Linked DNA regions of Homo sapiens. The protein of the gene in region 1 purifies or fractionates together with the protein of each later gene. This does not show direct contact. Each region holds a gene or a part of one and is shown in the gene's direction. Other genes may lie near its edges.

What was found.
Region 2: the proteins of MTX2 (region 1) and MTX1 fractionate together in Homo sapiens (co-fractionation; one study listed by IntAct). This does not show direct contact.
Region 3: the proteins of MTX2 (region 1) and HPN purify together in Homo sapiens (co-immunoprecipitation; one large-scale study listed by IntAct). This does not show direct contact.
Region 4: the proteins of MTX2 (region 1) and LPAR1 purify together in Homo sapiens (co-immunoprecipitation; one large-scale study listed by IntAct). This does not show direct contact.
Region 5: the proteins of MTX2 (region 1) and IMMT purify together in Homo sapiens (co-immunoprecipitation; 6 studies listed by BioGRID and IntAct, with this or other methods). This does not show direct contact.
Region 6: the proteins of MTX2 (region 1) and SAAL1 purify together in Homo sapiens (co-immunoprecipitation; one large-scale study listed by IntAct). This does not show direct contact.
Region 7: the proteins of MTX2 (region 1) and EXOC5 purify together in Homo sapiens (affinity purification with mass spectrometry; one large-scale study listed by BioGRID and IntAct). This does not show direct contact.

Annotation. Positions count from the first base shown.
Region 1 is NC_000002.12:176,324,656-176,329,220, forward strand, and holds part of MTX2 (metaxin-2), read left to right. Parts: intron 1-2,169; coding exon 2,170-2,246; intron 2,247-3,637; coding exon 3,638-3,730; intron 3,731-4,218; coding exon 4,219-4,257; intron 4,258-4,565. UniProt on the Homo sapiens protein: Involved in transport of proteins into the mitochondrion.
Region 2 is NC_000001.11:155,211,664-155,215,357, forward strand, and holds the end of MTX1 (metaxin-1), read left to right. Parts: intron 1-463; coding exon 464-556; intron 557-721; coding exon 722-904; intron 905-1,030; coding exon 1,031-1,107; intron 1,108-1,573; coding exon 1,574-1,728; intron 1,729-1,820; coding exon 1,821-2,035; 3' UTR 2,036-2,160; downstream 2,161-3,694. UniProt on the Homo sapiens protein: Involved in transport of proteins into the mitochondrion. Essential for embryonic development.
Region 3 is NC_000019.10:35,047,436-35,052,000, forward strand, and holds part of HPN (serine protease hepsin precursor), read left to right. Parts: intron 1-1,827; exon of another isoform or gene 1,828-1,854; coding exon 1,855-1,956; intron 1,957-2,039; coding exon 2,040-2,081; intron 2,082-3,010; coding exon of another isoform or gene 3,011-3,086; intron 3,087-4,565. UniProt on the Homo sapiens protein: Serine protease that cleaves extracellular substrates, and contributes to the proteolytic processing of growth factors, such as HGF and MST1/HGFL. Plays a role in cell growth and maintenance of cell morphology.
Region 4 is NC_000009.12:110,940,684-110,945,248, reverse strand, and holds part of LPAR1 (lysophosphatidic acid receptor 1), read left to right. Parts: intron 1-3,080; coding exon 3,081-3,828; coding exon of another isoform or gene 3,829-3,908; exon of another isoform or gene 3,909-4,565.
Region 5 is NC_000002.12:86,146,159-86,150,723, reverse strand, and holds part of IMMT (MICOS complex subunit MIC60), read left to right. Parts: intron 1-2,890; coding exon 2,891-3,022; intron 3,023-4,526; coding exon 4,527-4,565. UniProt on the Homo sapiens protein: Component of the MICOS complex, a large protein complex of the mitochondrial inner membrane that plays crucial roles in the maintenance of crista junctions, inner membrane architecture, and formation of contact sites to the outer membrane.
Region 6 is NC_000011.10:18,084,789-18,089,353, reverse strand, and holds part of SAAL1 (protein SAAL1), read left to right. Parts: coding exon 1-24; intron 25-2,128; coding exon 2,129-2,211; intron 2,212-2,299; coding exon 2,300-2,488; intron 2,489-4,565. UniProt on the Homo sapiens protein: Plays a role in promoting the proliferation of synovial fibroblasts in response to pro-inflammatory stimuli.
Region 7 is NC_000014.9:57,230,575-57,235,139, reverse strand, and holds part of EXOC5 (exocyst complex component 5), read left to right. Parts: intron 1-1,107; coding exon 1,108-1,152; intron 1,153-1,256; coding exon 1,257-1,397; intron 1,398-2,390; coding exon 2,391-2,473; intron 2,474-3,424; coding exon 3,425-3,634; intron 3,635-4,565. UniProt on the Homo sapiens protein: Component of the exocyst complex involved in the docking of exocytic vesicles with fusion sites on the plasma membrane.

The DNA of each region.
Region 1 (4,565 bases):
AAGTGAGATATCAATATAGTTTATCTACCTGTTTCCTAAAATTACTATACTTAGTGTCATTTAGGTAGATACCTATTTTCTTTTTATTAGATTGCGCGAAAGACAAACATAAATATTCTAGAGACATACAAAAATATACATTCTTTCATAGGAGTCTCCTATAGGTAGATGAAAATGGCACTTTCTACTAAGATATTTAAACTTTATCATATCTCAGATTGGTATTCTCTTTCATTTAATGATTTGAGGTGATAGGGAAATGTTTTTTATTGTATTTGCTTCTTTGATCTTGCGGTAGATTTTTAAAGCAGAGAGCATGGACTAGTCAGAAGACCAGTTGACTTAAACTCTTATTTCCTAAAGAGTTAGGAAATCTTTAACTAATCCTTCTGTGACTTTGTCACATATTAACTATTTCCTTGAGAAATTTCACTTCTCTGAGCCTCAGTGACTTCATCTGTAATATAAGGTAGCCGGATTAGATGACATCCAAGGTCCTATTTCTTGCATTCTTTGAATCTGCCAACTTGTTTGGCAACATATTCTTGCTTTCTTTAGAATAAAAATTTTAAAAGTGATTATTCTGTCTAAGACGGTAAACAAAGCCCTCAGTTTTCTTATATGACCTTTGATTCGCACCAGAAAATAACTGTCTTACTGTGTTTTTGCCTGATACCTGCAATAATAAGGATATAACATTGGCTCCATTTTCATTAAGCAGGCTAGTGACAGAAAACATTATTCACTTCTAATTTGTTGTGTTTGTTTTTATATATCTCTTTATATTTAGAGATATATAAGATTAATACTCAGTTGACTATCCACACTTCTTTTTGCTTCAGAATTGACAACGCTCAATGTATTTTTAAGAAAAGAAAAAAAATACAAACCCTTTTTTCCAAGAACCTGAAACTGGTCATTAAAAACAAGGAATATGCTTTGCTCTAAAAATATTATACCCCCAAATACTGTTTGTCTAGGTACTAAATAGTTTTCATTCTCAGATCATTTGATCTCAGGGGACCTGTAATAATTCTGGTAGTATAGTAGTTACAAAGATTTTATCCCGAGTTAAGAAAACAATGTGGCCTAATGCTTAACCAGATAAAAAAATTTTTTTTTGCAAGATTTATAAAGCAGTAGAAGGAAGGAATGCAGAATTGGCAACAGGGAAATATCTTCTCAATACATCTATTGAGTTGTTGTGTTCCAAAAGGCCTGCCTTTTCTTTGTAATGCATGTTGTCCTATGGATGCAGTTGAAGCTTTTGTTAGGCCTCTGTACTTCATCCATTACCCCCAGGCTGACGGAGCCAGAGAGGAGTGAATCTATTGAAAAGGAACAGGAAGAAGCCTGCTGTTAGTGTGAACTCTATTTGAACTAGGTGTGACAGCAGGTTTCATTCTTTAGCATTTGGAGTAGACCCTTCTTGCTATTTGGAGATTATTTTGTTCTCTCATCTCTAATAATTCCAAGTATTAGTATTTGTTAAAGTGAAATATTTCTTTTTTAATGTGACATTTATCTATAGAAGCTAGTTTTTATAAACATACTATTATTTTTTCCCACATGTTGGGAACATACTCTGTATTACAACTCACCAACTAGCATGCCTTCAAAGATTGTTAATTCTTTTAATTCTTGCTATTTTGAGTTAAAGAGATTTATTGATATACAATTACTTGCTTAAAATGTTGATCTCAATGGGTATCAAAGACTTAAAAGATGTAAAAAGGTTTTTTAAATGTAGTTTACAATATAGATTGATTCACTGTACTCTGAAAAGAAAGCTTACATTTCTTTGAAATATATCAGTGGTCATGTACCAGTGTCCTGGCTTGGTTCATGTAATTTGGATAATTAGTGTTTGCTGCTATATGGTGATATGTTTGTGTTGGCTCTGAAAAGAGAATGTTATGTGATCTGTTATTATATCTAAGTGAGAACTCTAGAAATGAATTTACCTGTTCTTTTTTTCTAAAGTTGGTTAGTAATCAGTTTAAAAACTTACAGAATTTAATATACACATCTGACAAAAATTTTCAAAAGTTACAGTTTTATGAAATCCCTATTTATAAATACCTGAGTTTTGTGTTAATTTTTTTTAATTATCACAAACTTTAACATACTGGAAGTATTTTTATAAATACTTTTTTTTTCTCTCAACAGGTAAAGTACCTTTTATTCATGTGGGAAATCAAGTAGTATCAGAACTTGGTCCAATAGTCCAATTTGTTAAAGCCAAGGTAATAAAAAGATATTAAATGTATTTGATCAGTTACCAAGTCATTCATCATTCTTTAATGTGTCTTAACATTTACATTGATTTCAACCTAGTTTTATAAAATGCCAATGCAAACTACTGGAAAATATTTCTGAAGTGTAAGTTAGTATTTTTTCATGATATAATGGCAAAAGAGGTAGCTTTTTTTCCTCTATTAATGTCAAATTTATTAAAGGTATGTAATTTTAATATCTAGTCTAAAGAGATGGTTTGATCTTTACAAAATGGTAGATAATTTTCTAACTTATGCTTACTACAACTGTGGTCATAAATGAAAAACTATTAGGTTTTGAAGTGTCTGGCTGACCTTTGAAAAGGGAGATACAGGATTTGTTTGAAGTTGAATGTATTTATCCATTTGAATGATTCTGCTTTTCATTTATTCAGTTTAGATTTTAATAGTTATTAAGGAACAACTCCCATTAGTGTTTCTGAAAAATCATTCCAGACTTTTTGAATATATAGAAAAACCTAGATCATACTAGTGTGTATTATTTTGCAACATACCTTTTAAAATCATAAATATGTTTGGAAATTCTTCCATATTAATAGCTGTAGGTATATATCATCCTTTCACATTGTTGTATTCTGCTGTATTGGAGATATATATATATCTCCAAAATATATATATATATTATTTTTTTTTTCTTCAACACCCTCCCCCTGTATTGGATAAATTAGAATTTTATTTACTCAAGTTTATTGTTGGGCTTTTAGGTCATGGCCAATTTTTTGTTTTTATAGAGTACTAAGATAAATTTTCTTATATATACATCTTTGTATAAATTCCTAAGGTTGGTATTGGTACCTTAGGATAAATTCCTGAGAGTGGTATTAGGATGTCATAGGTTATGTACTTTTTAAATCTTGTAATAGATTGCCAGATTGAACTAAAGGTTATATCATTTTATGTATCTCCTAGTAACTATAGAGTATTAGAATTTTAAAATAAGTGGGTTTCTCCCCCCATATCTTTACAAACGTATTTTTTTCATCTTTGACCACTTTATAAACAGCACATGTCAGTCTTTTGGCATTTCCTTTATTTCTAAATAAGGTTAATCTCTTAAACAAGGTTTGCTGACCATTCTGTTTTCTTCTTTTGTGAAGTAGTTGATAGTGTAATTTTCTCTATTGAAAGATACATTTGTATAATGACAAGTAAGTACATACTAATATTTTGTAGTGATAGCAGAGTATTATTTATGCTTTTATATAAAATAATTTTTAGGGGGCATTTTGGACGTTTAATTCATTGTATAGTTGCATGTTACGTTATTTGTTAGTGAGATAACTGAAAGTTTTTGTATATTTAATATGATGTTCTTTTAAATTTTTTTAAATTCCCTTTAGGGCCATTCTCTTAGTGATGGGCTGGAGGAAGTCCAAAAAGCAGAAATGAAAGCTTACATGGAATTAGTCAACAATATGCTGTTGACTGCAGAGGTAAAATACTAGATGATACGGCTTGAAAATAAGCTTTTTCTCTCATTCTCATAAAATATAATCTTTCTTATGGGTTAAAGTTATTGAGAAATGGGAAAATAGTCAAGTAATTCTAGAGTTGAGTTGGCTACCTAAATTATTTGATTATTACCTTTGAACAAGTTACCTGACATTTTCAGTTCTAGTTTTTCTGTTTATAAAAAGGAGTGATTCTTGCCTACTCATTATTTTACTTTGGCCTTTTGAAATTTGCTTAAATAATATCTGTAAAACACTTTAATGGTATTTAGACATGTATTGTGTGAATAAAAAATATTTTTATAACGTACCATCATTACATTTTTGTGGATAGCAGCTAAGAAAAACAAACCGCTACATGTGTGACTTATGAAATTAGCTTATAAAAAATTGCCTTGGCAAAAAATAACTTTCTTTATCCTTTTCCTCTTTGGTATTCTAAAGTTTAGTGACTGTTCTTTTGTTCCTAGCTGTATCTTCAGTGGTGTGATGAAGCTACAGTAGGGGAGGTGAGTGGTTCTGTAACATTTATCTTAATTAAAATTTAATGAGAAAACACTTTTGCTCAGAATCGCAAGTCCCTGCTCATAAATGAAACATTGTGGTTTATACCATTAGTGATATAGTTTTTCACTTACTTTAATTTTGCTTGCACATAACATTTTAGGGAAGCTATGTGTCATTGTTTGATATAACGGGTTGCAAAGTACATAAAAGTTTATATATTTTTAAAGGGAATGGCTTAAAATTTTAATTTTTTAGATTGCAGGATGTGTATTTTTTTCAGATTGCTCTATTTATGTTCTCTGAAAATATA
Region 2 (3,694 bases), on another chromosome or scaffold:
GGGCCCTGGGCGTGGGTTCCCTGGATCCAGGGAGTGTGAGGATGGCTTTCTCTGGTTCCTGAGGCATGGACCGAGTCCTAGCCTGCATCTGAGCTCCGTTGTGCTAGCTTTGTGGTGTCTGGGTCGGGGAAGTTACTGTTAGAAAGTTGCCGTCAGCGGGCGTTGTTCCAGCTTTCCATGGAAATTCTGGGAGCTGCTCCTAGTTTGCGGCGGAGCCTTCCTTCCTTCCCTGCATTGGGCGCTGGACCTTCACGGCCAGGAGGCTCCAAGGCCCAGGCTTTTCGCCAACAGCAACAGGCTACTGGCTGGGCCCAGGCAAGGGGGCCTTGGCAGGAAAAGTTCCTTGCTGTACCTCCACTGCACTCAGAGGCCAGTGAGGGGGGTACCAGACAGGACTCCTTCCTCCCTGGTGAAGTGCCCTTGCAGCTCCCTAGTGTCCACGCCATGGATATTTCCTCCACAGAAGTACAATGCTGATTATGATCTGTCAGCTCGGCAAGGGGCAGACACCCTGGCCTTCATGTCTCTCCTGGAGGAGAAGTTGCTCCCGGTGCTGGTGAGTGTGCCCAGACCTCCCAGCATCCATGGCCAGCCGGGGAGGGTTCGGGAACACACAGACCCACACACAGGCTCAGGAAAGCATGGGGGTCAGAAGCCCACCTTGAATCAGACAGGTGCACTGGCTCAGACCTACCTGTTTCTTCCTGCCCACCCAATCCAGGTACATACTTTTTGGATAGACACCAAGAACTACGTGGAAGTGACCCGGAAGTGGTATGCAGAGGCTATGCCCTTTCCCCTCAACTTCTTCCTGCCTGGCCGCATGCAGCGGCAGTACATGGAACGGCTACAGCTGCTGACTGGGGAGCACAGGCCTGAGGACGAGGAAGAGCTGGAGAAGGAGGTAGCTCTGAGACCGGGGGCTATTGTATGAGATGAGCCCCAAGGATGCTGGCCAGGAATGGGAGTGCTTAGGTGGGGAGGTGGCACTGTTCCCACAGCTGCAAGCCTACCTGTGTCGCCCCTACAGCTGTACCGAGAGGCTCGGGAGTGTCTGACCCTGCTCTCTCAGCGCCTGGGCTCTCAAAAGTTCTTCTTTGGAGATGCGTGAGTCTGACTCCAAGAGGGTAATGGGTGGCTTGGAAGAAGATACAGGTTCAGATGGAGCAGCTGGAGCTGGGGCTGGGGCTGGGGCTGGCTCAGGCTCTGGATAGGAGGTCCCTGGGATAGAAACTGGCCCTAGTGACAGTGTGACTGTGTGGGGGCCAGAGCCTTCTCAGAGGTACAAAAGGGTAGGGTGGGAGGGCAGCCAGGCACAGGAGGGGCCTGAAGAGCTGTGGGGCACTGAATGTGCCCTTTATGCAGCCCTGGGATAGAGCCCTATTCAGGGCCAGGCTGGCGCCACCTGGGGATCTCTCCCCATACCAGGTCTAGAACTGTGTGTCCTGTCCTTCCCTGGTGGCCGCCTGCTGCCCAGAGCCCACCTCCCAAGGCTGACTCTTCCTCCAGCTCCATCTTTACCCCTTCTACCCCAGTGGTTCTCCTCCATCCCACCCTTCTCTCTCTGCTCCAGCCCTGCCTCCTTGGACGCCTTCGTCTTCAGCTACTTGGCCCTGCTGCTGCAGGCAAAGCTGCCCAGTGGGAAGCTGCAGGTCCACCTGCGTGGGCTGCACAACCTCTGTGCCTATTGTACCCACATTCTCAGTCTCTACTTCCCCTGGGATGGAGGTAAGGGGCAGATGGGAGGGGCAGCCCTGGGGAGAGTGGGCAGGGATCCAAGAACTAGTTCTCCTAACACACCTTCCTTCCTTGACCCTCAGCTGAGGTACCACCGCAACGCCAGACACCAGCAGGCCCAGAGACTGAGGAGGAGCCATACCGGCGCCGGAACCAGATCCTATCTGTGCTGGCAGGACTGGCAGCCATGGTGGGCTACGCCTTGCTCAGCGGCATTGTCTCCATCCAGCGGGCAACGCCTGCTCGGGCCCCAGGCACCCGGACCCTGGGCATGGCTGAGGAGGATGAAGAGGAATGATTTGTCCTCACGCTCCCAAGACTGGTTTTTCTACTCTCATGCATTCCAGAGGCCCCCGTGCCTCCTCGTTGTTGGTACAGCCGGACACGGGGTGCTGCCACCCAGAATAAAGCCACTCACACTGACTGGGCTCAAACATTTTCTCCTTTAAGAGCTGCCATTTTTCCTGGCTGGTGCCATAGGAATCATCTGGGTGCCTGGGCACACCCGCTGCTGCTTTAAGGCTTCCGCCCTGATGCTGACACTGCTGCTCCACGGGCCCAGTTCTGCATCTCCAGGAAAGACAAACAGTCTCCAGTTTTGGGCCCAGCTTTCCTAGTCTCTTCTTTTCCTTACCCTCAGCCCTGATCTTGTGTTTGTACGGACAGTGAGCTCACCCTAGGCCTGGACCCAGGCCCAGTTTCCAAAGCAAGCAGCACACAGCGCATGTTCACATAAGCATGGGGGCTGGGGGGACACTGGGGCTTACTGATCTTTTTCTAGGGGCCTCCAGCCCCTGGCACCACCTAGAGGGGAAAGTGAGTCACCCAAACCATTGCCCCTGGGCTTACGTCGCTGTAAGCTCACACTGGCCCTGCTGTGCCCTCTTTAGTCACAGACAGCGTGTGAGCTGACTCTGTCCCTTTAATGCCCAGGCTGAGCCCAGTGCCTCCTTGAGTATCTGCTCCATCACTGGCGACGCCACAGGTAGGTGTGAATGGAGTAGCCAGGTGAGATTGTCTCCAGGAAGCCCACAGCAGGATCCTTGATGGTAAGAGGCACATCCTTAGAGGAGCTAGGGAGCAGGGAGGAGAAGCTGAGAGTGTGATCCTGCCAAGGCCCCCAACGCTGTCTTCAGCCCACTTCCCAGACCTCACCATTGCCCTCACCGGTTTAGCACGACCACAACAGCAGAGCCATCGGGATGCATCAGTGCCACTGCGTCCGGGTCGTTCTTCTGACTGGCAACCAGCCCCACTCTCTGGGAGCCCTCAGGAATGAACTTGCTGAATGTGGGAACAGATGGTCAGAGTCCCTCGGGGTACCTCCCATGAAACCCTCATCTAAGAAGTCGCCCACCCACGGACCCACCCCATAACTCCTGCAAAGGCTCTGCCCTGGCTCTCTAGGCCTGGAGCCATGCTGCTGGGCACTGACCCTGCTTTTCTGCATCGCAGTCCAGCCTCAGGCATTGGGGTTTTCTGTTGCTACCTAGTCACTTCCTGCCTCCATGGCGCAAAAGGGGATGGGTGTGCCTCTTCCGAGGTTCCACCCTGAACACCTTCCTGCTCCCTCGTGGTGTAGAGTGATGTAAGCCATCCGATGTAGGAGATGATAGGCCTGGTATGGAATGGGGGTGCCCGCCCTCCACTCACCTGAAGTGGCCAAGGTGGTAGAACATGGGCTGTTTGTAAAACGTGTGCTTGGTGATGTCTACAATGATGGGTTCCAGTCGGTCCAGCCGACCACATGGTACAGGAGGTTCTAGGGTAAGGACAAAGGCAAGGAGACAAAGGCGCAACACTGGGGGTCCCCAGAGAGTGTAGGTAAGGGTCACGTGTGGGAGAGGCAGCTGTGGGTAGGTCAGCCCTGTGAGGGGCACATTCCTTAGTAGCTAAGGAGTTGGGGGTGTGAAGATCCAGGCATCTCAAGGGGAGCTGAGAAGTCTGAGGCAGCTGC
Region 3 (4,565 bases), on another chromosome or scaffold:
GATCCCCTGCAGAAGCCCACCTGCTGCCCCAGCCTGCACGGTTTTCTTCACAGCCTCTGCCACAATCTGGAAATTATTGGGTTCATTTACTTGTTTCCTTGTTAATGTCTCCCACTCCCCACCTACACGCATGAGAACGTGAACCCCTGAGAGTCGTAACCTTATCTGTCTTCTTTGGGTTATGTTCCCGGAACCTAGAAAGGTGCCAGGCACACAGCGGATGTTCAGTAGGATGGTAAACAAATAAAGCTTCTTTAGGCTGATGAAAAAACTGAGGGTCAGGCGCGGTGGCTCACGCCTGCAATTCCAACACTTTGTTTGGGAGGCTGAGACAAGCAGATAACTTGAGTCTGGGAGTTCACGACCAGCCTGGTCAACATGGCAAACCCCGTCAATACAAAAAATACAAAAATTAGCCATGTGTGGTGGTGTGCGCCTATAATCCCAGCTACTCGGGAGGCTCAGAATTACCTGAGCCTGAGCGCTTGAGACTGCAGTGTGCCATGATCGCGCCGCTGCACTCCAGCCTGGGCAGCACAGTGAAACCCTGTCTCAAAAAAAAAAAAAAGAAAAAGAAAGAGAGAGAGAGAGAAAAAGAAAGAAAGAAAGAAAGAAAGAAAGAAAGAAAGAAAGAAAGAAAGAAAGAAAAGGAAGGAAGGAAGGAAAAGAAAAAAACTGAGGCTGAGGCTCAGAGAGGGGAGGGGAGTTGCTCAGGCCCACACATCTCTGATGATTTATAAAGCATTTATAGAGAACTTGCTATGTGCCAGGCACTTCCGCACAGTGAGAGCCAGGATGGCTTCGTGGCTGTACACAGGGGACCTGGCATCAAACCTGCCCAGGGTTCTGGACGCTGCTCTGCCTCTTCCAGGCTGTCACTGTGGGCACGTGACCCCACTTCTCTGAGCTATCTCAAAAACAGGAATCATAGTTGTGGGATTGAAATAAGGACTAAATGAGCTGATGTATTTAGAACGGTGCTTAGCACCTGGAGGCATCAATACAATTTGAGCTATTCTTCTTCTTCTTGAAAATAACTTTAAATTATTATTTTTAGAAGTAGGTGCTCAGTGGATGCCCATTTAATAGATAAGAAAGTTGAGGCTCAAAGATATGATGGCACCTGCCTTAGGTTCCAGCTAGGAAGGGGTAGGGTCAATATTTTTAAATGAGGCTGGCCAGACGCAGTGGCTCACTCCTGTAATCTCAGCATTTTGGGAGGCTGAGGAAGGAAGATCGCTTCAGCCCAGGAGTTTGAGACCAGCCTGGGCAACATAGCAAGACCACGTCGCTAAAAAAATTAATACATAAAATAAAATGAGGCTGGCAGATTTTCAAGTGGAGGGGCAAATTTGATCTTGCAACTGGGTACCATGAGAGAGGTCTGATTTAGGGGGTATCTAGGGGCAAAGCATCTAGAACAGCAGAAACGACTGAGGCAGCGAGGAAATGCCAGCGGCAGGGAAGAGAGCTACCAAGAGGGCAAAGGTTGGGGGTCACAGTCCCAAGAAGAGATGGCCCAAAGCAAAGACAGAAATACAAAAGCACAGTGTCACTGGGGAGGAGACATTCCCTAAGTGCCAGGAAAGTGCAGGGCGGAGGTGGAGACCGTGGCAGGTGGCCCGGCCATGCCCCCCTCCCAGCTGGAACCCTGGGGGAGCTGGGCACCTGGTTGTTCACACGGCAGGGGAGGAACAGCCCTGTCAACTGCTGGCCCCGGGAAACTGGGCCTGGGGAGGACATGCTTGGGCATAATAAGTTAGCCCTGGGGGCAGGGCAGAGCTGGCCTCGGGCCCAGACCCTGCCGCAATGAGGACAGGCCTGGCTGTGGCCCCAGCATGGTGTCTGTTGCAGGTGGCCGGACTGTGCCATGCTGCTCCAGACCCAAGGTGGCAGCTCTCACTGCGGGGACCCTGCTACTTCTGACAGCCATCGGGGCGGCATCCTGGGCCATTGGTGAGAGCGGTTCCTGTGCCTCTGACCTCCCCTGGCCCCTGCAGCCTCCAGCCTGCCTGCCCTCACCCCTCCCTTCTCTGCAGTGGCTGTTCTCCTCAGGAGTGACCAGGAGCCGCTGTACCCAGGTGAGTGGAGCAGGCTGGGACCCTCTGGGGGAGCCCTGGAGGACACGTGTATCTGGCGGGAGCTCAACAAGCGTATTTGTTGAATAAATGCACAAATGCATGCAGAAATGCTAATCATAATAGTGCATTTGTATTGAGTGCCTGCTATGTACCAGGCACTATTCTAAGCACCCCACATGTCTAACCCAGACTTTTTCAGACACCAGTGTATTACTCATGAGTGCCTCATAAAATTAAATTAGTGAGTTGGAAAACCATGTTTTTTTTTTAAGTATGAAATAGATTCGATTACAGACTATCACAGTACATCTCTCAGTAAGTAAAGGTTATGCTAATTTTTGTTTGTTTTTTTTTTTTTTTGCATCCATATACATGTAATCCCACTGCATCCCCACACTCTGAGGGTGGGACTGTTATTCTCCCTGTTTTACAGATGGGGAAACTGAGGCTTTGAGCAATGCAGCAGTTTGCCCCAGACTACAGAGCTATGGGCTACATCAGGATGTAAAAATGTGTTTCTTACTGCGTGGCATGGTGAAAACATGTTGGGGAGGCATGATATAAATTCAGTGGACCCTTCTAACTCTCCTAGGAGGTAGTTTTTTTGTTTGTTTGTTTTAAAAAAGAAAAAAGTCTTGCTCTGTCACCCAGGCTAGAGTGCAATGGTGCAGTCTCAGCTCACCGCAACCTCTGCCTCCCAGGTTCAAGCGATTCTCCTGCTTCAGCCTCCCAAGTACCTGGGAATACAGGCGTGTGCCACCATGCCCAGTTAATTTTTTGTATTTTTAGTAGAGATGAGATTTCACCATGTTGGCCAGGACGGTCTCTATCTCCTGACCTTGTGATCCACCCGCCTCGGCCTCCCAAAGTGCTGGGATTACAGGCATGAGCCACTGCGCCTGTCCCTGGTAATTAGCTCCATTTTACAGATGTGCAAAATGAGGACCAGAGAGGACATGCAGCTGGGGAACGAGGGGCCAGGAACAGCTCTTAGACTTATCCACTGTAAGTGTGTCTGCAGGCATGTGGAATGAATGGCCACACAAATAAATAGATAAAGAAACTAACTGTGGGATGAATGAATGAATCTTCCCAAATGCCAACTTCAAGCTGCCATTCCCTGATGCAGGACAGCAGGAAAAAAGGGGAAGTTGGGTGGTGGGATGTATTTTTCATGTCTGTGAGCCTCATCTAATTCCATAAAGGATTCAGTTCACACTAAAATCAGAAATGAAAATCCAGACAAGAAAAGCCAACATCAACATTAATCATCATTACCAGCACTTAGCATTTGTATGCACCAGCCAAGGCCTTGGGACCTTATGATATCAACTCATTAAGTCTTCCCAACAACCTGTTGTTTTTCTTTTCTTTTTTTTTTCTTTCTTTCTTTCTTTCTTTTTTTTTTTTTTTTTTTTGAGATGGGGTCTTGCTCTGTCGCCCAGGCTGGAGTGCAGTGACACGATCTTAGCTCATTGTAACCTACATCTCCTGGGCTCAAGCAATCCTCCCATCTCAGCCTTCTGAGTAGCTGGGACTATAGGCTAATGCCACCATGCCTACACAAAATTATTTTGTCAATAACAAATTATTGTTATTTTTATCTTTTTGAGCCAGAGTCTCGCTGTGTCGCCCAGGCAGGAGTGCTGTGGCGCGATCTTGGCTCACTGCAATCTCCATCTCCCAGGTTCAAGTGATTCTCCTGCCTCAGCCTCCTGAGTAGCTAGGACTACAGGCACGTGCCACCACACCCAGCTAATTTTTGTATTTTTAGTAGAGGCGGGGTTTCACCATGTTGGCCAGGATGGTCTCAAACTCCTGACCTCAGGTGATCCACCCGTCTCGGCCTCCCAAAGTGCTGGGACTACAGGCATGAGCCACCACACCCAACCTCATTTTTTAAATTTTTAGTAGAGATGGGATCTTGCTACATTGCCCAGTCTGATCTTGAACTCCTGAGCTCAAAGCAGTCCTCTCAGATCAGCCTCCCAAAGTGCAGGGATTACAGGTGTGCACCACCACAACCCATTTTCCTATGGGGATGCTGAGGCACAGAAAGGCTGAGTGACTTGCCCCAGGTCATGGAGCTAGTCAGTGTCAGGGCTGGGATTTGAACCCAGGCAGCCTGCGTAGTAACTGTATATAGTGTCTACACTTGATTGCTTGTTAAAAAAAAAAAAAAAGAACAGCTGAATTCATTGCCATAGTAAAGACTGACATATGCCAGGCCCTGGCGGCAGCCTTTACCCAGCAGGCCTATGAAGTTAGGGCTGTTACATCCCAACATTTTGCATTTGGGGGAAATTGAGTCCCAGTGAAGCAAACTGACTTGCCCGAGGCTGACCACACATCAGAGACAGAGCGAAGGGATCACGCCCCTGTCAAAAGCCCCTCCGTGACAACACGTGGCATTGAGATAAAATCCCAACCCATCACAGGCTCCAAGCCTCCTAGTGTGGAGGCCCCTCTCCACCCCCACCTCAC
Region 4 (4,565 bases), on another chromosome or scaffold:
ACCATGTAGGTTTTCTGCCTAAGTCTGTCGGCTCCTGAAGAAGTAGGAAAGCCCATTCACACTGCCCTTCTTACTGCCATTGGAGGTGCTTTCAGGGTCTCCACTGCTTATTCTTTTGACCTGTTGCTTTCTGCAGACAATAAGAGAGGAGGTTTAATTCCTCTATCAGTTCAGTCCTATTGTCATAAAACTAACTGAAATTCCTCTCACTTCTTCTCAGGCATATTATACCCTCCCAATTTTTAATTCCTGGTGTATTTTCTACTCTTTCAATATTTAGCTGCTAATTTTCATGAAATATAGCGTTCTTATCCAGAATCCTCTTAGTATAGGATTTTAAATCTGAACTAGACCTTATGTATAAGTTAGTCCAATTTCCTCATTTCACAGATGATAAAATTGAGTTTCGAAAATCATTTAAGTTTTATCATTAAATATGTATGGTTTTTATGGTATTACAGTCAATTGTTGAGAGAAAAGAAATGGCATAGGACAGGGCACTTTTCTCTACCTTTAGAGAAAATCTGTCAGTTTTACTCATCTTTGTACATTGTGGCTTAAAGAGATAATTTATACTTCTTAATTTTGCCATCCTTAACTTTATCGTTTTTCTCTGTGGGAAGGGCTAAGAAGCTGCATATATCTCTGCTTAACTTTGTTGCTACTTGGTGTTCAGAAGTTGGAATGCTGGGAAATAATATACGCTTGATATTTGGTTTAAACATTTCTTGATTCAGAGAAGGTAGATGGTTATAGAGACTAATGAAAAGAACAGACTTTTATATTTGTCTTGACAAAGTTTTAAATATCCTTTGCAGAAAGAAAATTTGTAAAGTTTAAACATTTTTGGAAATATCTTTAATTTATTAAGGAAATCAATATGTATTTAGCATGTAGTCCATAGAACAGTTGGATACTATACAACAATGAATAAGCAAGCTAGAATCTCTGCGTTTATAGGGTTTCATAGCCTAGTGTAGAGGGGATCAACAGATAATTAAGCAATTATGATACAGTGATTCCCTGGACCAGCAGCCTTGGCATTACTTGGGACCCTACCTCAGATCTACTGAATCAGAAGTTCTTGCGGGTTATGTCAGCAATCAGTGTTTTACAAACTCTCAGGTAATTCTGATACAAGAAACCACTGTTTTCACTGTTGAGAACCAGAGTTGAGAGAGAGAGCACAGCACATTAAATAGAGCTGAAGCTGAGAGTTTGGAGTCATTAATATCTTGAGTTGAGGCTGGAGAGGCAGGTAAGTAAGGTCTGATAAGATGATTGAAAAGTTTAGACTTTTATCTAACGTGCACTCATAAGCCCTTAAAACATGTCCAGTGGGGAAACAGCTTGATCAACTTTGTCTTTTTTTTTTTTTTTTTTGAGATGGAGTTGGGGTCTTGCTTTGTTACTCAGGCTGGAGTGCAGTGGCATGATCTTGGCTCACTGCAACCTCCACCTCCCGGGTTCAAGCGATTCTCCTGCTTCAGCCTCCTGAGTAGCTGGGATTACAGGTGCCCACCACCATGTCTGACTAATTTCTGTATTTTTAGTAGAGAGGGGGTTTCACCATGTTGGCCAGGCTGGTCTCGAACTTCTGACCTCAAGTGATCCACCCACTTTGGCCTCCCAAAGTGCTGGGATTACAGATGTGAGCCACTGTGCCCTGGACTGTGATCTCTTTAAGAAGCAGACAAGTAAAGAGATAAATAATTATACAATGTATTAAGTATAATATTTGAAGCATAATCTAAAAGCTATTAAAGTCTAGATAAGGAAAGAGACTTTAGATGCCTGGGTAAGTCAGAAGACTAACCACTTAAGTATTTCACGTTGTTCTTGGAAGTTTTAGTGTACAACCTATGGATATTCAGTAGAATATTTGATCAAAAATAGTGGTTAAAAGTGTCATATGTTTTGGGTAATTTATTAGATTCAAAGCAAAATAAAAATGAAAAAGTAGAATGTGAACCGTCTTCAAGATATATTTTTTAATTTTAGGGGTCCCAGGTAAACTTAGAGCTTCAAGAAGAATGACTTACTCTATGTGATGTATACTTTTCTAATTTCTAGTTTGTTACTTATTTTCTAATTTTGTTTAAATATATTATTATATATAATTACATATTATAATTATATATAATTATATATTATATATTATGATAGATAAATAAACATATATTATTCTGTTTTAAACTGTCTCAATCCTTTTTAAAGTGATTATTATAAATATTGTAAATAATAAGCAAATATATTCTTATCAATGATGTTGAAGAATAAGTAAACATGTTATAAAGCATTTTCACTCCACACTTTAAAAAATATGCTGCATCTAATCTAAGTATATTTTACTTGTAGAACATTGTCAAAGGGTCACCTACTCTTTGGAGGTTACGTTGGGTCCTCCAAAAAGAAAAAAAATTCTCAAATGTCATAGATTGGTTGACAAGTCCTATTCTGAACTTAAGGAGTTGTGGGGGTAGGCAGTGCTGACCACAGGAATGTTGAGCAGCAAATGCTGGCTTTGGGCAAAAAACCTTTGATGCACAGTGACTTGTTTGAAATGTTTGGAATGATGGTCCTTGTGGGAACCTGCATTACAAAATGTCTGTCCCACATGGAACATACTGTGTGAGAATAGAAATGCAGAATAATAGGGCAATGATACCCTATCTAGAAACCAACTGTGTTTACAGATTCCCTAAATAACAGGTCAAATAGATTTTACTATGGTAAATATTCCAATTGCAATGTTCTGCAAAATTTTTGTCTGTCTCATGTATTTTAAGCAAGATTTCTTGGCCATGTGGCTTTTGTAGTAGACTTCAATGACATAAAACCACTAAGCAGAGACCTTGTCATTTATTTAACTCCAACTGCCTTTAATCTTAAGGACAGTAATATTGTGAGAAACCTTGGAGTTTCAACATAATCACAAGATGGTATGCAGGATCAAATGTTCAAATTATTTGCTTTTGTTTTTCTGTTGCATGTACTATAAAAGTCTTGTGTTATCTATATAAGCTTTAAATTTGGACCTGTGCCTTCTTTTTCATCATCTTTTCTCCTTTTTCTTTTAGTTCACAGCCATGAATGAACCACAGTGCTTCTACAACGAGTCCATTGCCTTCTTTTATAACCGAAGTGGAAAGCATCTTGCCACAGAATGGAACACAGTCAGCAAGCTGGTGATGGGACTTGGAATCACTGTTTGTATCTTCATCATGTTGGCCAACCTATTGGTCATGGTGGCAATCTATGTCAACCGCCGCTTCCATTTTCCTATTTATTACCTAATGGCTAATCTGGCTGCTGCAGACTTCTTTGCTGGGTTGGCCTACTTCTATCTCATGTTCAACACAGGACCCAATACTCGGAGACTGACTGTTAGCACATGGCTCCTTCGTCAGGGCCTCATTGACACCAGCCTGACGGCATCTGTGGCCAACTTACTGGCTATTGCAATCGAGAGGCACATTACGGTTTTCCGCATGCAGCTCCACACACGGATGAGCAACCGGCGGGTAGTGGTGGTCATTGTGGTCATCTGGACTATGGCCATCGTTATGGGTGCTATACCCAGTGTGGGCTGGAACTGTATCTGTGATATTGAAAATTGTTCCAACATGGCACCCCTCTACAGTGACTCTTACTTAGTCTTCTGGGCCATTTTCAACTTGGTGACCTTTGTGGTAATGGTGGTTCTCTATGCTCACATCTTTGGCTATGTTCGCCAGAGGACTATGAGAATGTCTCGGCATAGTTCTGGACCCCGGCGGAATCGGGATACCATGATGAGTCTTCTGAAGACTGTGGTCATTGTGCTTGGTAAGTTCTGTCTTGACTGTAACTTACTTTATAGATTCTCAGTGACTAACATAAACCACATTATTTTATGTCAGAGGTAACCAACAGTATGAATATTCACCAGGTAATTCACCAGGAATTACAAGGGGATGAGGCACCTTTATATTAAATGTCAGCTTATGAGTCTTCCTAAAATTATAGAATTAGCGTTAGGGAAACATGGGTCCCAGTGGTGCAGTATAAATGATGATGATGTAAAAGATGTCATTGAAGAGTTTGGCTATCTAATATTGAAAATACCAGAATTACCAGTCAAACTCATTCATTTTTCTTACAGCCTAAATTGTGAAACTTTTGCATTGTGGTTTCTGTATTACATATTTTCAGACAGAAAGTGCTTTTGTAGAATATGAATATGCTTCCATATATAGTTATTTTTGTTAGTCTATTCTGTAATTGTTGCTACATTATAGGTAGTATATCAAGGTTTTATATAGATTTACTGAACAAAACAGATTGGAATTAATGATATTCTCTGACAGTCATCTTCATGAAAACTTCCTTATTTTCTATTAATTTTCTATTTGTAGTAGTGGAGGTTAATTCATATTTCAAGGTGAAGAGCAAGATTTGTAGACTCAAATACCTTCTGCTTTTAAATAAGCATTGTTTTTCTTGGATGAAAAATTCATAGTAGTGATCAAGAAGAATATATTCACTTATGTGTGTAGAAGGTAGTTAAAGAGCACCTACTATGT
Region 5 (4,565 bases), about 90 Mb from region 1:
CAGTGGAGCTGAGCCTCTGTCCCTTAAAGCAGTGCTGAACGAATCTTTGTTGGAGTCTGAGTATATTTTTCTCTGCTATTGTTGTTAAGTGGTTGGTGGTTAAAAAACAGGTGAAATAGCTTCTTTAGCCCTCTGTCTGGGCACACCATTTATTAAATAGGTGTCCACAGGCTGATTTGGGAACCTAACTACTCATCCCACCTTTGTGTCTTCTTAGCAGTACTACTGGCCACTCCTTCCTTCTTGAAACTATTTCTTCCCTAGGCTCCCTGACACCATACTCTTCTGGCCTTTCTCTTACCTTGCTGGCCACTCCTTAACCTCCTTTTCTGCTCAGCCTCTCAAATGGTGGCATACCTGGCATTAGTTCTGAAACGTTTTCTCCATCTGAACTGTCTCTAAGTGTTCTTGTTGAGTCCCGTGACTTGGAAGTTTAAATACCATCTATACCTGATAAATGTCTATCTCCAGCTCTGACCTCTGCCTTGGCTTCAGGTTCCTATCCAGCAGCCTACCTGGTATCTCCAGCTTGATTTTCAGTAGTCATTTCATGCTTATCATGCTCCAAACAGATTTATTTATTCTCTCCAACCTGTCTTCCAGCCCCTCAACTTGTTTCTCTCTAAATAAACTGAGTTGAACAATCTGCTCAGCTATTCCAGCCCAAATCATGCTTTGTTGTTCCTCCATCAACTCATATTCAGTTGCCCCACAGATCCTACCAGTTTTGCATCCAACATAAATCCCAAATCTGTCCACTCCATTACTACCACCTTAGCCCAAGCTGTCATCTTAACAGCTTCCACTATTTTTTCTTTTTCTTTCTTTTTTTTTTTTTTTTTTTGAGACAGAGTCTGTCTTTGTGGCCCAGGGTAGAGTGCAGTAGTGCAATCTTGGCTCATTGCAACCTCTGCCTCCCAGGTTCAAGTGATTCTTGTGCCTCTCAGCCTCCTGAGTAGCTAGACTTACAGGTGCATGCCACCACATGTGGCTAATTTTTGTATTTTTAGTAGAGACGGGGTTTTGCCATGTTGGCCAGGCTGGTCTCGAACTCCTGACCTCAAGTGATCCACCTGCCTTGGCCTCCCACGGCGCCAGAATTACAGGCATGAGGTACCATGCCCGGCCTTCCCCAAGGAATTTAAACACCAAAGTGCTGGGATTACAGGTGTGAGCCACCATGCCCAGCCAATTTGCCCTTTCTTCATACCCTTCTTTCTGTGTCTATTTACGCAGGCAAATAAAACATAGTCGAATCAGACACTACACTGCTGGAAATCCTCCATGGACTACCCATTTCATTTAATATAATTCCAAATTCTTAACCAGTACCCAAAAGGCTTCTTGATCACTGCATGCCATGAGCCATTTCACTGCTCCAGGCACCCTGGTATTTTTTGTCTGTACCTTGACTATATCTTTTGTCTTGGGACCTTTATGTTTTCTCTGCCTAGTACATTGTTCTATCCTCTCTGTTTAAACCTTGAGCTCTAAGCTTAAGTTTTAAGCCTAGATGTCACTTTGTTAGCAAGACTGAGATTTCCTATCCCTTCAGTCCAAAGTAGAGTCTCTGTATTACTTTCTGTTATGTTGCCCTGTTTATTTTAAATGTAAGGTGGGGGAAAAGGAGGTTGAAGGGGTGTTGATGCTTCACAACAGGTCCTTGCCTGCTCAGTCATATGTAGAAATATGTATCACAATCTCAGATGTCTTTTTTGTTTACTGTCTGCTGCCTCCATTGAGATATACACTGTGAGAGCAAGAAGTTCGTCTGCCCTAAGCACCATTGGATCCGTACAGATAGTAGGCACTGCCTGGCACACAGGGCTAGTAGCACTTCATAAATACTTATGCACTGACTGAATGGATTCATTGATTTATTATATTGTTTCTGAGAAAAAATAAGTTCTGGATTTCAGGTAATCAGTGTTAAGTAATTTGTAAAGTGACCTATGGCTATTTGTTAGGCAAGGTATATTTTTTGGTTTTTTTTGGCCCATGTTGAATTTAAATTCATTTAAAAATAAGCAGTTTTCTTTGTTTAGAAGTCTATGTCAAGTCTATGTCAATAACTACCAGATACTTACTAATTTTCTTTTCTTTTTTCTTTTTGAGATGGAGTCTTGCTCTGTCGCCCAGGCTGGAGTGCAGCAGCGCAATCTTGGCTCACGGCAAGCTCTGCCTCCTCGGTTCACGCCATTCTCCTGCCTCAGCCTCCCGAGTAGCTGGGACTACAGGCACCCGCCACCACACCCGGCTAATTTTTTTTTTGTATTTTTAGTAGAGATGGGGTTTCACCATTTTAGTCAGGATAGTCTCAATCTCCTGACCTCATGAGCCACCTGCCTCAGCCTCCCAAAGTGCTGGGATTACAGGTGTGAGCCACCACGCCCGGCCAACTAATTTTCTTAATGATTCTTCAAAGTAGGCATTATTACTCACAAATGAGAAAGTGGAGATTTGAGAAGATAAATCATTTCCCCAAGGTCACACAGATGGTTGTAGTAAAGCTACGCTTGATTCCAAGTATATAGTTACTTTTTTTCATATCCTGGATTTAGTTATTTCTCAGAGGAGCATGTGATTCAGGAAATGGCAGTGTTTTATATGAGAGGCAGCCTGGTGATGTGGAAAAACCACAAGTTTGGGGGTGAGAGAGACCTTTGTTTGAAATCTGGTTTTTGCCACAGCTGTGTGATCTTGTTTGAATCACCTTCCAGGGTTTAGTTTTCCGTTTCACATGAGAAGTAGAAGTGTACACATGCCTGGCACATTAGAGGCGTTCAGGATATGGAAGCTGCTGTTGTCATGGTTGATAGTGGTCTTTCTGTTTTCCTAAAAGTATATGTGGAGAATTGAAAACTAATAACTACTATGTTTGGTTTCACAGATAGAAGAAGTCAGAGATGCCATGGAAAATGAAATGAGAACCCAGCTTCGCCGACAGGCAGCTGCCCACACTGATCACTTGCGAGATGTCCTTAGGGTACAAGAACAGGAATTGAAGTCTGAATTTGAGCAGGTGAGGACCTGGACTCCCTTCAGCCACACCCCTCTTCCTGACAGGATTAAGAGACTCTCCTTTCCTTTTAATGTACTCTGAGGATGTCGAAGATTTGGAAATCTCCTTGTATGTCTACAAAACTGCTTCTTTTTACATAATGGTGTACCTGTGTGTTCATGATCAGATGTGTTTTTAAAATATATATTCTAGTCATTTGGAATCTTCAGAGCTTTAAGGAGAGTTGGTAAAGGGGATTTCAGGAATGCAGACAGTAATATTTGACATGTGTATCTTCCTCCTATAGATGGCATGGTACTGCTTAGATTTTTATAACTGAGGTAATTTCCCAGAGAAGTTTTGAAATCCCAGTAAATTATCAGGATGCCTGTAATCATAGTTTCTATTCAAGAAATCATTTACAGTAATATTAACTTGTTACTTTGTCTTGCAAGAAGATATTGAGGTTTTCTAAGTAAAATCTTCCAGAGAATCGCGATGTATGTCAGTATGAAAAGGTATTTTAAATTCTATTTGGATATTTTTCTGAGAAAAATTAATGTATAAGCTCTTAAATACAAGATATTAGAATATAATTTAATCTAATTATTATGTTTAGGTTTGCAGTACAGATAATTTACTTTCTAAAGCTGACAATTTGTGGCTGAGCACAGTGGCTAACACCTATAATCCCAGCAATTTGGGAGGCTGAGGCGGGTGGATCGCTTGAGGACAAGAGTTCAAGACCAGCCTGCCCAACATGGCGAAACCCTGTCTCTATTAAAAATACAAAAATTACCTGGGCATGGTGGTGCATGCATGTAATCCCAGCCACTCCGGAGGCTGAGGCATGAGAATCGTTTGAATCTGGGAGGTGGAGGTTGCAGTGAGCTGAGGTTGTGCCACTGCACTCCAGCCTGGATGACAGAGCAAGATTCTGTCTCAAAAATAAAATACAGTTGGCAGTTTGTTTCTGACTTTAACAGCCTTCTCTCTTCTCTTGGTATGCCTCCTCTAATATTAGGTTCCATCAGTAAACCTGTAAAGAATTATATACATCGGCCGGGCACGGTGGCTCACGCCTGTAATCCCAGCACTTTGGGAGGCCGAGGTGGGCGGATCACGAGGTTAAGAGATCGAGACCATCCTGGCCAACATGGTGAAACCCATCTCTACTAAAAATACAATAATTGGCATGGTGATGCATGCCTGTAATCCCAGCTACTTGGGAGGCTGAGGCAGGAGAATCACTTGAATCTGGGAGGCGGAGGTTGCAGTGAGCCAAGATTGTGCCACTGCACTCCAACCTGGCAATAAAGCAAGATTCCATCTCAAAAAAAAAAAAAATATATTATATACATCAAATATGAGTCAGGACATTTTTGAAACTTTACACAAAATGTAGGAATTTCGTGACAACTCTAAGGCCCTCTTTGCTTCAGCAAGTAGTTGCTGGAAGATTACACAGTTACATGACATGCATTGAGTATCACTTTTTTCTGGAACTATTTCTGTTTTATTTCAGAACCTGTCTGAGAAACTCTCTGAACAAGAATTACAATTT
Region 6 (4,565 bases), on another chromosome or scaffold:
ACTTGAAGCTGCCAAACAAGTACGGTAGGTGAGCTCTTTTGTGTAAAATGTTCTGGGAAAATGCAATTGCTAGAAGTATTCTCAGATATAAAAGTCTTCTTATATTCCTTACAACAGAATAAAGTACATAGTCACTCCTTGTTACGTTAATTCACTACTACTATTTGTGATGCAACCTGTATAGTGGTTACAAAGTTCCTGTTATATTATCATTTAGCTATAGGCTGTTACTCAACATTAACTGTGGTTTCTGTCTTACCATATTTTATGTAATTTAAATCAAAGAGAAAACATTTTCTTGTGCTTTATTTTACATTGAACATTTAACAACTTCATTAACGTTGCACATCATTTGCTTTTTTTTGCTCCTTGTGTTTATATGCCAGTCTTCAATAAGTGACCGATGTTGGGACTCTGATGTCTTGCCAAGAGTGATTACTAAGCCTTACAGGTCATTAAAACTGTTTATTGCTAATCACTAGAAAATTAATTTTTAAATTGATCTGCTTAGTGTTTTTCTTAGTGCATTCTTAGTGCTGAGTAAGCCACATCAAAACCTATTAATTTTGTGTCCTTTATCCAAGTGAGGGATAAATTCATCATCTTTCCCTAAACCTGCTTCATCAGTATTCTCAATCTCAGTAAATGATGTAATCATTATCCTATTTGGATAATGTAGAAGAAATGGAGAAGCCAATTACTGAATCTTTCCTGCCCCAGTATTTTCCCATTGCAGTCAACTCCCAACCCTTATTCCTGACATTTTCTGGGATTCCATCCATGCCAATCAAGCCATTATTGTTTCTCATCTGGAGAACTGCCACATTCTTTTACTTGAATTCCCTGCCTCTATGCTTGCTCTTCCCAAGCCTAGACTTTAAAGCTGTTTTTGCAAAGTACGCACTCATTTCACTCTCATGCTTCGGTCTTTTCAGTTGCCTTCCTTAGGATAAGGTCCAGAAAAACAAACAAACAAACACAGCTTGGGTACTACATACATCACCTGGGTGATGGGACCATCCATATTCCCAAACCTCAGCATCATGCATGTAACAACCCCCAACATGTACCTTCTGAATCCAAAATATAAATAAATAAAATAGGGGAAAAAAGAATGAAATAAATGAAAAATTCTCAAAAAAATAAAGTACAGCTTATGGACCCAGTAGCGCTATCCTTATTCCTTGTACTCTGCGTTTCAGTCATGTGAAGTTTGCGTCACTTCTTCAACTGAACCAGGCTGTCTTGTCTCCAGGCCCTTGCACAGTATGTTTCCTCCACCTCAGACACTTCTTTGCCCCTTCATGTTTCTGTGTAAACATCATTTTTCTTAAGATACCTTCCCTGACCCTGCAAACTAAGTCTCCTTGCTTTGTGAAGTTCCTAGCCCATAGTGCTACATTAGTACCACTTTATTGTAATTACCCCACTTGGAATCTTCTTTCCTTTTAGAGTATAAAGTTTATGAAGGTAGGGATAACATCTTATACATCTGTTTTCTCAACTCCTAACATAGTGCCTGAAATTTGTAAGTACTTAAATAAACATTTGCCAAACCATTGTTTTAATTGTTCACTGTCTTTTCACTTGTTTGGTTGAAGAACTAAGATTTTGAGTTTCCAAACTATTTAGATTTTTGAGAATCCAAACGGTTGATCATAAGAATTAGACTTACATGGTTTTAGTGTTCTCAGCTAGGGAGCTAGGTTAATCCTGAGACATTTTCAGAACATCATTATTGTTGATGCGTGATGCAGCGGACCTTAACGTTCATACTATAAAAATCGCAGTCTTTTTTTGTTCTGATTATTCAAGCAAACCAAAATGATAAAGTATCAACTGGTAGGTTTCTGCGTTGTTGCTTTTATGAGATAGAGCCAAAAAGTTTTTTTACTTCTTGTCCTGTGTGTGTTGATTATATTATATAATATTTGTTTATTTTTTGCTGTTTCCCCTATTAGAATATAAAAGCTCTAACGAACACAGAGACTTCGTTCCTTTCCTTGTTTTATCCTCAGCACCTTGAACAGTGGCTGGCAGAGTAATAAATATTTATTGAATGGAGGAATGATTGGAATCCCCTGGACAGTAAAGTTGTTGATTCAGTGCTTTTACTTTTCCTATTTAGTTCTGAAAATCCAGAATGGCTTGATGTTTACATGCACATTTTACAACTGCTTACTACAGTGGATGATGGAATTCAAGCAATTGGTAAGGTGGTTTATCGGGATGCACTACAGTTACTCATTTAATTGTTTGCTGATTTTAAAGTACTGCTTTATTTGTCCTCTTTATTAAGTACATTGTCCTGACACTGGAAAAGACATTTGGAATTTACTTTTTGACCTGGTCTGCCATGAATTCTGCCAGTCTGATGATCCACCCATCATTCTTCAAGAACAGAAAACAGTGCTAGCCTCTGTTTTTTCAGTGTTGTCTGCCATCTATGCCTCACAGACTGAGCAAGAGTATCTAAAGATAGAAAAAGGCAAGTACAGTTTCCCAGGCTCATACTGTTTTTCATTTCATTTATTTCTCCCTTTTAAAAAATGCTTTCATTTCCCTAATTATAAAAACATTACATGCTAAACTTCAAAAATTTATTTTATTATCATATTTATTTATTTTATTTTTTATTGATTTTTATTTTTTGGAAACAGAGTCTTGCTGTGTTGCACAGGCTGGAGTGCAGTGGTACAATCTTGGCTCAGTGTAACCTCTGCCTCCTGGGTTCAAGTGATTCTCGTGCCTCAGCCTCCCAAGTACCTGGGATTACAGGCGCACACCACTATGCCCAGCTAATTTTTGTATTTTTTCAGTAGAGACGGGTTTTTACCGTGTTGGCCAGGCTGGGCTCGAACTCCCGACCTCAGGTGATCCACCCACCTCGGCCTCCCAAAGTGCTGGGATTACAGGCGTGAGCCACCCCACCTGGCCTGTTTACTTATTTTAAAGCCAGAGTCTTATTTTGTTGCCCAGGCTGTAGTGCAGTGGCAGGATCATAGCTCACTGCAACCTTGAATTCCTGGGCTCAGGTGATTGTCTCACCTCAGCCTCCTGAGTAGCTGGGACTACAGGCACATGACGCCACACCTGGCTAGTTTTTAAATATTTATAGAGACAGGGTCTCACAATCTTGCCCAGGCTTGTCACAAACTCCTGGGCTCAAATGACCTTCCTGCCTTGCCTTCCAGAGTGCTGGGATTACAGGCATGAGCCACTGCACCCTGCCGAAAAATTTATAAAAAATATCAAGGAAACATGATGTTTGTAATCTTACCATCCCACACATGCACATATATTTAATTCTGCTTTTTAGCCAACATTTCATTTAGAAATATAAAATGAATATTTTCCTATATAAACACATATTCTTTCACAGAATTGTTTTTATGACCACAATTAAATTCATGATTCATTTAGAATTTATTCTCGTGTCACATGTGAAGTGTGGCTTTAATTTTTTTTCCCCCTTTGATAACTTTGGTTCTAGTGGTATCAGTTTTTTCCCAGAGGGCTACCCAGTTATCTCAACATCATTTAGTGAATAATCCAGCTTACCCACACTGATTTGAAATTTCATCATTATTTTTAAAATTCCCCTATATATTCTGTTCAGTTCCATTGCTGTATTCATATATTAGTAGCCATAGTGTTTTTAAATATTAAGGTTTTATGTTTTAATACCTAATAAGGCAAATTCCTCTTCATTCTAAGTTTTCAGAATGTTTTTAACTATTTTTATCACTAACTTTGAGTTCCAAAAACAAAAAATTTCTGACATTTTTGTTGACATCGTGTTAACTTGATAGGATATGTTATGCCCTTTTATTTGTTCAGGTCTTTTTTGTGTCCCTCAGTAATGGTTTCTTCATATGGATCTTGGATATTTCTTATTAGTTTCATTCCTAGATAATTGTATCTTTTGGGTTTACTATTGTCTGTGACATATTTTCTTCCACTGATTATTATTGTTGGAATATATGAAGGCTATTGATTTTGGTATATTAACTTTGTATCCTGTAACCTTACCAAATTCTTAATATTTTTAGTAGTCGTTCCAGTAATAATCTTTGGGCTTTATCTGATAGTGCTTTGGCTTAAGTTAGATATATTTTATCACTTGTCTATCTCTGGTTTATTCTTCTTGTCTTTCTGGGTTGCCTAGAGTCTCTGGTGTAAAATAATAGTGATGGTAGAAAACATCCTTACCTTCTTCCTGATTTTAGTAGGAATAATCCTAGAGTTCCATTGTTAAGCATTATTGGGTATAAGATATATGTTTTACAGCCAGGTGCTGTGGCTCACACCTATAATCCCAGCACTTTGGGAGGCTGAGGCGGGCAGATTACCTGAGGTCAGGAGTTCAAAGTCAGTCTGGCTAACATGGTGAAACCCTGTCTCTGCTAAAAATACAAAAATTAGCCAGGCTTGGTGACGCATGCCTGTAATCTCAGTTACTCAGAAGGCTGAGGCAGGAGAGTTGCTCGAACCTGGGAGGCAGAGGCTGCAGTGAGCTGAAATCACGCCATTGTACTCCAGCCTGGGCAGCAGAGCAATACTCC
Region 7 (4,565 bases), on another chromosome or scaffold:
GGGGAAGCTATTTGTTGGACTTTTCATTTTGGTAAAATCTGAATGAGTATTGAGAATGGCTCTTGAGACAGTAGTGCACTTTATATTGCTTTCCTTACTGGTTTTTATGTATGATTTATTAATAGGCAAAAATCTCATTATGGTGAGCTTAATGACAAATCAGTTTGTTTTAAACACATTTTATTAAAATACATTTAGTTTAAAAAGTAAATTTCCAAACTACCAGCTGAATACAACTGTCCAGATTCTTGCAAGGAAAACCAAATGCTAGAGAAGGCCAGGCGCAATGGCTCACTCCTGTAATCCTAGTATTTTGGGAGGCCGAGGCGGGTGGATCAGTTTAGCTCAGGAGTTCGAGATCAGCTTAGGCAACATGGTGAGACCCTGTCTCTACAGAAAATACAAAAATTAGCCGGAGGGGAGGCATGTGCCTGTAGTCCCAGCTACTCGGGAGGCTACAGCAGGAGGATCGCATGAGCCTGGGAGGCAGAGGTTGTAGTTAGCCAAGATGACACCATTGCATTCCAGCCTGGGTGACAGGAGTGAAATCCTGTCTCAAAAAAAAAAAAAGAAATATATATATACACATATATATATATATACACACACACACACACACACACACACACGTATATATACACACTTTAATATATATAAATATATTTATATGTATATAAAACACATACATATATATATGTAAAACCTTTTCCCAAGACCTTGACTCTCTGTGTATGTGTGTGTTTGTGTGTATGTGTGTGGGTGGGTGTGAGTGGGTGTGTTTTGGAGTTGAAGGAGATGGCTAGATGATCATAGGACAAAAATTACTCTAAAGAACTCAGTTACATACTTCATCTTTCTTGTTTTAGTCTAAAGTTCAACAAGGATATGTACCAACTGATAAATTTTATCATAGAAAGTGACTAGGGAGACGATACCTTTATCAAGTTACTGGTTTTCTGCAGTTAATTTTATTTAAGTCCAACAGGTGTTGCTATTGGCCATTTACTGGTAAATAGTCATAGCTTTATGACATATAACACTTCTTTTTTTGAAATAATAATTATTATAATTGAATCAGAATAATAACAATGTGTTTCTTCCTTGTAGGGTTATTCCCATTGTGTTGATGTTTATATAAAGCAGTGCCAGGAGGTAACATAACAGTACACTTTGTTGGATATTATTTTATGCTAATTGTTGTTTTAAAATCATGTAGAAATTATATGTTCACTGTATAAAATGTCTCTGCTGTTTAGGGTGCTTATTTGAGAAATGATATATTTGAAGACGCTGGAATACTCTGTCAAAGAGTGAACAAACAAGTTGGAGATATCTTCAGTAATCCAGAAACAGTCCTGGCTAAACTTATTCAAAATGTATTTGAAATCAAACTACAGGTAATTTTAAATAGTAACAAATTAAATAGTTCTTAAAGCAATATGTAATTTTTTCCCTATATTTTAAAAGTATTTTTAAAATTTAGTTTACTTATGTAATGACCTTAGAAATAGTAATCTAGTTAAGGAGAAAGGAATCCTCATGCTTTTTAAAAAATGTTTTGTATTCACCAAGAAGAAAGTGCTAATCAATAAGTATCATCAGAGAACATGCTTGAAATTTGTGTAGTATTCGTAGTAGTAGTATAATATATTGTGGTAAGATAGCCTTGAAGATTTTTCTTTTTTTTTGGTCCCTGCCTTCACCAATAGATGTCATTTGTGAAACTGAACAAGAATTACAAGAGCAGTCTGTAGAATTTTTAATAATATGGTACTAACCTGAAAAGGGAAAACACAGAAATTTAATTTACCCCCATATCACTGTACTTTCAGATAACATTTCCTAAGCTGTTTACAACTGGATTAAACAACATTCAATAAATGTTTGCTTTTTTTTTTTTTTAACACAATTCAGGAATTTTGATAGTATTGTCATTCTCTAGAAGTGGGGATGTAATGTACAGCATTTCACACATTTACTGTCTAAGAAACCCTGTTTTGGAGTAATGCCTATAGACATCTGAAGGAACACTAGTGTTACCTGGAACTCAGTTTGGGAGATGCTGCCTTAAGGAATTGACTCTATTGTTTGTACTCTCAGTTTTGTTTTTTTGATGCACCTCACAGAGCAGAATAGGCCAATTTAACAGAAAAGGTATTATTCCTAAGACTGATAAAGATCCTCTACAGGTAAATATGAGAAGTGGTAAAATGTAAAAACCTGTTTTAAAATATTTTATGATTGGTTTGTTTTCTGTAATTGCCTTTTTGATTGGATTGTAAGTCAGAAAGGTTCAAAACTGTGGAGTGAATTTTAAAAGAAAAATATCTTGAGAAGTTGTAGAATTTAATATTTACCTAATTAACAGAATGTTAACCTTTTTCTTTTAGAGTTTTGTGAAAGAGCAGTTAGAAGAATGTAGGAAGTCCGATGCAGAGCAATATCTCAAAAATCTCTATGATCTGTATACAAGGTAAATTTTTAATGATTAGAAAATAATAGATAACAGATTTTTTAAATTTTTTTGATAAAAACAAGGAAGTATTCAGGTATTTTTGAATAAGTTTGTCACCAGTTTACCTTTTAGCATTAAATGCTTAGCTGTATAGACTAGTTATATTGTACAAGACTGTATTGTACAACATTCTTAATACATTAACGTCAGGAATTGGATGTTATGCTTTATTTTTTCTCTAAGCATTAGTGTAATTACATTTATCTGCAGTCAAAACTTTAGAAACTGCAAAAGGAAGTGATGTAATCTTAACAAATGACAATTTCAGCTCTAAATCTTCTGTAGGAATTTGTCTTGTGCTTTTGTAAATGTCAGTGTTACTCTTAGAGATTGTCTCAGAAGCTTCATATGGAGTCTTGTGGGGTTTTTTTTTTCCTTGACTTTTCCCAACCCTATTACTCTTCTTCAGTGTCTTCATTTTGGGAGAAGGTTTTTCCAAAGTTACCGTAATGAGGAAGTCCATCTCAACAACAACACTGTTATGACCCTATCTTCAGCAATGGGAAATAGAAAATTAGAGGGAAAGTCCACAAGGACAAAACAAAAGAGGGTGAACAGACAGTAGATCTTTCAGTACTCTGTTTTGGGTCCCATGTGATGAATGGCATTAGACATACTTGAGGCCAATCTGCCACTGTCGCCATTTCTGGACTAGTTAATTGCCTCACAAGTTCTTTTCCTAGGAATTTATAACAGTTCTCAAAACCGTAAAGTTGTTCGTAATATTTCACTGTATTTATATGTAACCCTGTAGAGTTGATCTCTGCATCATAAGTACTCTCCCAGAGTTTAAGAAATGGTGGCTTAACATAAGTCATGAAAGTCACGTTGTAAAAATTTGTATTCCTTAATATTGTTACTATACCTAAAATGTATATTAATCTTTTTCTCCCCCTTTTTCATGAAAAGAACCACCAATCTTTCCAGCAAGCTGATGGAGTTTAATTTAGGTACTGATAAACAGACTTTCTTGTCTAAGCTTATCAAATCCATTTTCATTTCCTATTTGGAGAACTATATTGAGGTGGAGACTGGATATTTGAAAAGCAGAAGTGCTATGATCCTACAGCGCTATTATGATTCGAAAAACCATCAAAAGAGATCCATTGGCACAGGAGGGTGAGTATTTTTGTTAAATACTTCTGTTAAAACTGAAGACATTAATAACTTCATTATATTTGGGCAAATTATCAAATGTTGACTATCATTAGAATTTTCTGTGAAGAGTTCTTTTAATCCAGATTGTTATATTATTGATCAAATCTTGTTCTTAAACCACATGTTGAAATGACCTAACATAACATGATTGAAATGTAAGCCGGGCGTGGTAACTCACTCCTGTAATCGCAGCACTTTGGGAGGCCGAGATGGGCTGATCACCTGAGGTCTGGAGTTCGAGACCAGCCTGGCCAACGTGGTGAAACCCCATCTCTACTAAAAACACAAAAATTAGCTGGGCGTGGTGGCAGACACCTGTAATCCCAGCCATTAAGGAGGCTGAAGCAGGAGAATCACTTGAACCTGGGAGACGGAGGTTGCAGTGAGCCAAGATTACGCCACTGCACTCCAGCCTGGGCGACACAGCAAGACTCCGTGTCAAAAAAAAAAAAAAAAGTAAAGTAGATATTTGTCAATTAAAAAATAATGTTTTAAAACTATCGAGCAGAACACTAGTAATATAAAAAGTTCCATAGTTTCTTTCATTTTTTTTTTTCTCGATAGAATAAGTTCCAGGTTATTGACCAGGAAACGCATCTTTTTTTTGTTACTGTTGCAGGTGTGAAAAAAATAGAAAATAGTTTGTAGTTTAAGTACCTTGAATTGATGAGTTTTGTTCAGAGACTTTAGCATAAAAAACTATTAAATTAATACCTTAATGCCTACAATTATTTACAGACTAGAAGAAAATAACTTGCTCCAAGAATAGTTGGCATCTTAGCTACCAGGCTTTAACTGCCTGGAACCCAGATTCTAAAAAGAGACAGAATGACATTGGTGGACTCAAAGTCCAGAATCCCCACATGTATATATCGAAACCAGTTTTCTTATT